Regions from separate parts of the Homo sapiens genome. Here region 2 is linked to region 1. Evidence: fine-mapped expression QTL. Tissue or cell type: T cells. Region 1 holds a variant in brackets; the other region holds the start of a gene. All regions are shown on one strand. Distances are between the middles of the regions.

Region 1 (4,525 bases):
AGTGGGGCATGGCCTGCTGGGTCCAGGTAAGAATAGACATTTCCAGACAGTTATTGTGGCCATGTTCTGGTTGCCATAGTGCTGACATTGAGGACCCAAATGCATATGCACTAAATTAAGTAATTACACATCAAATGTTTGTTCTTTTGCCCTCTTGTTGATTGGCTGAATGGTTTTTTATAAGTGTGAATCCTGAGAAGGCTTATATTTCATTCTGCTTATGCAATGGGTTCCAGTCCATTAATGGCAAGTCCATTTTAGCAGCAACTTCTTCACAATTAAGGCAAATTTCCATTAAAATTTGTTTACAACAATTGTCAAAAGAGAGACAGAGTTGTGTTCCTTTAGGTAGATCATCTGATTTTCTTAAAGCCTGGTGCTGATTTCTTTTAGGCCAAGTAAGAGTGTGCCAACTTGCAGGACTAGTCAATGTTAACACAAAAGCTTCATATAGACAATATATGCTACCTATCAGCAGAGCATCTAAGTGCTTAGCAAGGATAAGAAGAAAAAAGGATAAACTTCTCTTGGGACTGTGGTCTATTAGCGTGTCAAGCAAATTCTTAATTTGAAGAGCAATTCTGCAGAAATGAACAGAAAGTCCTCTCTAAACATTTTAATAAGAATAACCCCCCGAGCCAATATGCAATTGAGTGCATTACTTTCTAGTAATTTCATTTATACAACAGCTCCACAAGCTGTTTCTTTCTCCATATTCAGATAACCCTAGCCTCTAGGGTGACTGTAAAAGTGATATTTTAATAATGTGCCACATCTGTGATCAGAAATCCATGGTGAAACGCTCTCATGATCATATGCTAACAGCCTCAGATAACTATTTTCCAGATTTAGGCAGGACTGGTTTGATGCTTGTGGTAACTTTCATTGCCACATTTTTCAATATCGTCTGCAAGAAATCATTGCTAAAGATGAGCCCGTAGAATGGGATCCAGCCTTTATTTCAGCTGCGAAGACTTGCCATCTTCCATGGAACTTATAGATCAGCTCTGTTCAATAGGAGTATAATGTGAGCTGAATATGTTATTTAAATTTTTCTAGTAGCCACATTAAAAGTATAAAGACGTGAAATTAAGCCTAACAGTATATTTTATTTAACGCACTATATCTACAAGATTACCATTTCAATATGTAATCAGTGTAAAGCATTATTAATGAGATGTTTTGCATTCCTTTTTCTTTGTATTAACTCTTCAAACTCCGGTGTGCAATTTACATTTACAGCACGTCTCAGTTCAGAGGAGCTACACTTCAAGGGCTCAGGAGCCACACTGACTACGAACTACTGCATTGGGTAGTACAGCTACAGAGCAAAAATCTTCTGAAAAGGTGGTCAACAAACCCCGGATGAAGAACATCTTAACAAGAATGTGAATTTCCAGGCCCTATCCTTGACCTACCAAATCATACCTCTGGGGGTAGCACTAAGGAACTTTCATGTTTTAAGACAGGTTCTGTAGAGGATGCTTTGCTTACTAAAATTTAAGAACATTTCTTAGACTCCCTGTCCCAAATTTGCTTATAGCCCTATAGCCATCACCACCACACCCACCATAAACCCCACCACACGGTCATATAGGTAAGTAGGCACAATTACATAACCCAGTCTGTTCTTTCATACACTCATCAAATATTTTTTTGAGTGCTCATTGTATGCCCGGCCTAACAATATAGGCAAAGCTCCTGCCCTTTGGAAGCTTATATTCTAACGGACAAGGCAAACTGAACAAATAAAGGGGTAAATAAATGATCTAATTTCAGGTGGCAGCGAGTATAAAGAAGTGACACGTGGGTAGGAGGCCGGGGTGGAGGAGGGAGCGTGGAGGAGGAAGGGCCTAGGTGTAGGTGTGGTGGTCAGGGAAGGCTCTGGAGGAGGTGGGTGCTGGGAGACACTGAGTAAAAGGAGGGAGAGGCCCCACTGCATGAGAGAGACCAGTGCATTAGGAAGCCCCATGGTGGGAGCAGCTCCCAGGGCAATGTGGCTGGAACTGAGTGAACGAGCAAGCGAAAGGAGGAGTTGGGAGAGGGGGCAGGGACATATC[C/T]GATGGCACAGAGCCTGCATGGCCACGCCAAGGTGTGTGGGAATTATTCCAAGAGCAGCGAGAATTATCTGGGGGATTTTAAGCAAGTGCGTGTAGCATTAACATCTGATGGGCTGGGCACGGTGGCTCATGCCTGTAATCCCAGCACTTTGGGAGGCCAAGGCCGGAGGATCACTTGAGCCCAGGAGTTCAAGAGCAGCCTGGGCAACATAGTGAGGCTTCATCTGTATTAAAAATTAAACAACAACAACAAAAAATTAGCCAGGTATGGTGGTGCCAGTAGTCCCAGCTACTTGGGAGGCTGAGATGGGAGGATTGCTTGAGCCCAGGTGATGGAGGCCGCAGTGAGATGTGATCATGCCATGGCACTCCAGTCTGGGCAACAGAGCAGGAACCTGTCTCAAAAAAAAAAATAAAAAAATAAAATAAATCTGACAGAGGTGGCTATGGAGACTGTCCAGGAGAGAGAATGGTGGGCCCAGGTGACAGGGATAGCAGTGGAGATGGTGAGATGTGGCAGAGGTGGGTTGGCCGTTAAAGGTGGAGCTGATGGAGCTTGGGGATGATTGACTGTGGGTGGGAGGGCGGAAAGGAATGGAGGAAGGTTCCTTTGTTTGGGGCCTGAGTGACCACCAATGGGACAGTTATTGAGATGATGCTATGGCCTGAATGTTGGTGTCCCCCCAAAATTCAAGTTGAAATCGAATCCTCAATGTGATGAGATTAAGAGGTAAGGCCTTTAGGAAGTGATTAGGTCATGAAGGTGGAGCCCTCATGAGTGGTATTAGTGCCTGCGATAGTTTGTAAGTTTCCCCCCTCTAAATCTCAAGTTGAAAGTTAATCCCTAGTGTGGCAGTGTTGGAGGTGGGGTATCGTTGGAGGTGTTTGGGTCATGGAGGCAGGTCGCTCATCAATAGATTAATGTCCTCCCTCAGGAGTCAGTGAGCTCTCACTCTATTAGTTTCCCCAGTGCTGGTTGTTAAAAAGAGCCTGGCATCTCTCCCCTCTCTCTCTCGCTTCTGCCCTCAACACGTGATATCTGCACGTGCCAGCTCTCCTTCGTCTTCCCCCATGACTGGAAGCGACATGAGGCTGTCACCAGATGCAGATGCCCAATCTTGAACTTTCCAGCCACCCAGAATAGTGAGCCACATAAAGATTTTTTTTTTTTAAATAGAGACAAGGTCTTGCCCCGTTACCCGGGTTGGAGTGCAGTGGCTCAATCATAACTCACTGCAGCCTTGAACTCCACCCACCTCAGCCTCTCAAGTGGCCGGGACTACAAGCACACTTTACAACACACAGCTAATTTTTTAAAATTTTAGTAGAGATGGGGTAGATGGGGTCTCACTATCTTGCCTAGGCTGGTCTTGAACTCCTGGCCTCAAACAATCCTGCTGTTTTGGCCTCCTAAAGGATTAGGGTTACAGGATAAGCCTCCATGCCTGGCCACTTTTTAAAATAAAATAAATTACTCAACCTCAGATGTTCCTTTTAGCAACACAAAATGGACTAAGATAGTGACCTTATTAAAAAAAAAAAAAAGAGAGAGAGAGAGAAAGAAAGAAACAAAAAAAAGCCCAAGGAGCTTCTCGTCCTCTCCTTCCACTGTGTAAGGCGGTAGCGATAAGGCACTGTCTATAAACTGGAAAGCAGGACCTCATTAGACACCGAATCTGCCAGAAACTTGATCTTGGATTTCCAGCCTCTAGAACTGTGAGAAGTAAAGTTTTGTTGTTCAAAAGCCCCCAGTTATGGTGTTTTGTTATAGCAGCCTGAGCTGACTACGAGGAAGACAGATGAGGAAAGCATAGGGTAGGGATAATTGTAAAAACCCAGTTGCACAGATTATCTCTTTGCAACCAGGGAGAATCTCAGTATGAATAATCCTATTTTAGTCTAAATGGAGAGGAGGGAGGAGTTCACTTGTATGTCTCAGCTTCATCTGTTCTTTCACTGTGCCCTTTCCCACAGGAGATAGAAAAATGGTTAATGGTGGCTCACGTCTGTAATCCCAGCACTTTGGGAGGCTGAGGTGGGCGGATCACTTGAGGTCAGGAGTTCAAGACCAGCCTGGCCAACATGGCAAAACCTCGTCTCTACTAAAAATACAAAAATTAGCCAGGCGTGGCAGTGTGTGTCTGTAATCCCAGCTACTTGGAGTTGAGGCACAAGAATTACTTGAACCTGGGAGGCAGAGGCTGCAGTGAGCCAGTGAGCAGAGATCAAGCCACTGCACTCCAGCCTGGGTAACAGAGCCAGACCCTGTCTCAAAAAAAAAAAGAAATTTCTCTGTCTGCCAGGAGGTGGAGGAAACCACAGCCTCCTTTCTTCCCAGGTGGTCATACGTATGAATTCACTCACACACACACACTGCTGCTGCCCAAAAACCTCAGCATCACAACCATTCAGCTTCTTTTGACTCAGTGACGTAGGCAGAATCCCAAAATAACCCCCCCGTGACC
Region 2 (4,074 bases), 34 kb after region 1:
TTGTGGCTGTCAGGACTCAGACATTTGGCCATCTTTAATCTTACCTCTACCTCCCACTTGTCCCACAGAAGAAGACTTAATCCTATCTGTCAAAAAGAATTCGAAATCTCACCACTCACCTCAATCTGAACAGGGTTTGCTAGACCATGATGGCAAAGTCCAGGAGAAAGCCCTGGGCAGAGCAGGGCCAGTTCCCTGGTGCACCTCCATTAGGAGAGGTGAGGAGAACCTGTCCTTGAAACAGAGAGCTCTGAAGCTTCCCACAGTTCAGCTCTGAATTGAGAGGGAGCTGGAGAGAGTGAGCTCAAACTTCGTAGCTGGGTTCAGCCCCAACTGCACAGGCAGGGAGGGGGCACAAGGTCCCCTGTCCACCGATGCTCCTCAGTTTTATTGATGGGTGTCAGGGGAGAGGCCAGAGGGGAGATCCTTCCAGAGCTGAATAAGTGCTAGCCACCTGCCCACCCATACAGCTACCTTTGCAGAGACTGCAGGCATTGCTGCAGGCTGACCTGTCCATCACTGTAGCTGTTTTGTTTCCTGCTCTATCCGCCTGTACCCAGAATACTATCTGGGCCAGAGCAGGGTCTCTGTACATGTATGCGGGTTGAATAATGGAATCCTTGCCAATTTACAGGGCCAAGGGAGCCCTGTGTGAAATCATAATGGCTCAAGAAAATGGTGGCCTAAATAAGCCATTTGTTCCCTCTCTGAGCTACAACTTTGTTGTGTGTAATTTAGTATAAAAATGTTTGGGTCAGAAAGCCACAAAGTGTAGTTCTTGTAGAAAACATACTTGGAGTGTGTGAAGCTGAGCCTTTCTGGTGCAGAGGCTGAGGGGGAGGCTTGCTCTGTGCCCAGAAGGCTACATCACCAGCATCTGTCCACACTCAAGATGGGGGAAAATAGAATATCCCAAAGTGATTAAATACTCAAAGTTCCAAAAACGTGACAGCATGTCAATGTTCAGTAATCACCATAAAGCTACAGCAGCTGCCCTTAGTAATTACTCTTTTTTTCTCTATCTTAATAAATATAAAACACAAAGCCACTGGAGATAGTTATGAAAGTGGTCTGAGGCAGCCCTAACTCAGAACTTTAGGAAGACAGCTCTACACAATTCTCCCTTTTCCAGATCTAGGTATCCTGCTTGTTTTTTGTTGTTGTTGTTGTTTTTAACTAATAGCAGGAATAATGGAAATGCAAACGCTGAACAGGACAATTTTCCTCTCTCTCTCTCTCTTTCTGAAGTATACACTGCATATGAAAAATGCTTCCAAAATTATACGTGCTAGAGAAAAAGAAGGTATCACCAAAAAAAAAAGTTTCTTCAGGAGAAAAAAAGAAAAAAGTAATATAGAGGAAAAATAATAAGATGATTTTTTCTACGCACCTCCCAAAATCACTTTCTTTTTAGACTGCAGATGACTGGTAACTTCAATTGCACTGCAGATGTTAGAAAAGCCCAGTATCTGAGTAAATGTGTATATCATGTTCCCTTTCTAGTCTTCTCACCTTCCACCCCTTGCCTGGCCACATTAATTAATAGTTAAAATGCTGATCATAGACACTTCGGTGAGGGTTTTAGCAAAACCTTCAAGTTGCAGCCCTGGCTCTAAAAATGGGACTGGTAATCACCACAAAAGTGAAAGACTAAGAGGAGGAAAACCCCAAATTTACACAGAAATACACACAACCCTATACATTCAAATAAAAAGAAGAAAATAAAGATAAGGTAAAAGTGTTTGTGCATGCGCACACACAGACACAATTGTTTAAGCCTGACTTCCAAACAACCATCAAAGAAAATCTCCCCTTCTGTTCTTCCCTGAGTGAAGGGCTTTCCTTACCATTCTGGACCACGCTGATGAGGGTGACGATGGCCAACAGGACAACATTGCCTACAGTTTCTTGATCCATGTTTGCTTCAGGCTCCCCAGAGAGGACTGCTCTGCCTCCAGCTGCACAACCTGCCCTGTACAGGAAGGGGAAGTGAGAGCTTGCACTCTTTCATCATTACAATTTCTGAAGATCCCCGGCACAATTACACAGTGCCTTCTTCTTCCTTTTTTTTTTTTTTTTTTTTTTTTTAACTAACCACCAAAATGCCCTGGCTGTGGTTCAGTGTGTCCCACCAGGAGAAGCAGGGCTTGGCAGAGGAGCACGCAAAGCCAGCACACTCTCCTACATTTCCTTGTCATGGGAAACTTCCCTGAGAGTCTCCAGAATGAATCCTGGACCCAAGACCATGACCAGCACGAGCCCAGCACAGGCACCAGAGAATCTGGAAGCTGCCATCATCTCTGACTTCAGCAAAGAGAAAGAAGGGAAAGTAAACCCAAAACTTTCAGGTCAGACAGAGTGGCATAAACCTGTAACCCCAGCATTTTGGGTGGCTGAGGTGGGAAGATTGCTTGGGCCCAGGACTTTGAGGCTACAGTGAGCCAATGATTATGCCACTGCACTCCAGCCTGGGCAACAGAGCAAGACTGTCTCACACACACACACACACGCACACACAAATGTAAAATGAAACTTTAAAAAAATGTATAGAACACCAAAAGATCTGTGCCCCAAATACTGTCCTTCTTTTTTTGAATTCCAAGAAAAAAAGTGAACACTTAACACACGGTAAGTAGCAGCCACATAAGGTTTGAATGAAGGAAGGAATAAATGGCAGTGGGGAGGGACAGCTGATATCTCCATTTCTTCAGAGAAAAGTAATAAAGGGAATTCATAAATTAAACCAAAGAATTCAAACCAAACCAAAGAATTCAGGTAAAAGGCAGAAATGGAGTTACAGATGATCCCTAAGGGAAATTCCCAAAGGGAACTGACTTTTCTGAGGCAATCGCAGAAACACCTTCCTGGAAATTCTTTTCAACTGAATAAGAGTAGAGTGGCTGTGCTTTCTGAGAAAGTATAAGAGTGGACCTGCTGGGTGGGTGAGGTGGCTGCCTGGTATTCTGCAGCTCAGATCAGTGTGAATGGCAATCCCTCTGAGGTTACATGGAAAATGCAAAATACCTGCAATCTTTGTCCCAGACTTAGCTATTTGGCATTGGTTAAGAGGTGCTTTTATCAAAACTTCACTTTGAAAGGGAACATGGACCACTGTAACTAGTGGCAGCAGGGAGGGCTGCATCTCGGCACGGAAGAGGTCAGTGTAGGGGAAGATATTGCTCCCTCATAGGTACAGTGCCAGAGGCCCGCTTCAATGCCCTCGGTTCAGCTGAGAGAGAAAGGCTGATGAAGGCAGCGTGCAGAGTTGTGTGCGGGGAAGCCAGCAGCCAGGGCTGTCGGGCTGGTCATGACACACTTGGGTACTCCCTGAGTACCTAGGGCACTTTGTAGAGTATAGACTTTATATTAGCCAAGGCTCTCCAGAGAAACTGAACCAATATATAAATAAGTCTCCTCATATATATATATTGCAGATTTATAATAGAAATTGGTTCACATGCTCATGGACACCATGAAGTTTCATGGTTTGCCATCTGCAAGCTGGAGACTCAGAAAAGCTGCTGGTGGAGACCAGTCTGCATTCAAAGGCCTGAGCATCAAGGAGGGCAATGGTGCAAGACCCAGTCTGAATCCAAAAGCTGGAGAACAAGGGGCTCCAGTGTCCAAGGGCAGGAGAAGATGGAGGGCAATGGTGCAAGACCCAGTCTGAATCCAAAAGCTGGAGAACAAGGGGCTCCAGTGTCCAAGGGCAGGAGAAGATGGATGGCCCAGCTCAAGAAGAAGAGGGAATTTGCCCTTCTGCCCGCTTTTTGTTCTATTCAGGCCCTCAGTGGATTGATGACACCCACCATATTGGTGAGGGTGGGAATTCTTTACTTAGTCCGCTGATTCCAGTGCTGATCTCTTTCAGAAACACCCTCCCTAACACACCCAGAAAAAAACATTTTACCAGCTACCTGGGCATTTTTTAGCTCAATCAATTTGACATAAAATTAACTACCACAGAGTTATTACAAGATTGGTTAGGGCTCAGCACTTGCAAGATTTGTATATTCACCTTAGTGAGATCCAATTCATACCTGCAGTTTGGTAAGTTTCAGGGGATGTTTAGGT

What was found. PIP is the estimated chance that this variant, and not a neighbour inherited with it, causes the effect.
Region 2: ALOX5AP starts here. The variant in region 1 is the best candidate, but not a certain one, in a credible set for the expression of ALOX5AP in T cells (TOPMed, PIP 0.76).

The regions. Positions count from the first base shown.
Region 1 is chr13:30,767,322-30,771,846 of GRCh38, reverse strand. No RefSeq gene overlaps it. Among named protein-coding and RNA genes, the nearest start is that of LINC00398, 34 kb to the left of the region's middle. The variant C/T (reference allele first, on the strand shown) is at 2,061.
Region 2 is chr13:30,733,449-30,737,522 of GRCh38, reverse strand. ALOX5AP (arachidonate 5-lipoxygenase activating protein) reads right to left here and starts at 1,980. Exons shown (of 5, transcript NM_001629.4): 1 at 1,848-1,980. The coding sequence starts at 1,917. All of the region lies in intron 2 of LOC124903146 (a long non-coding RNA gene), which reads left to right.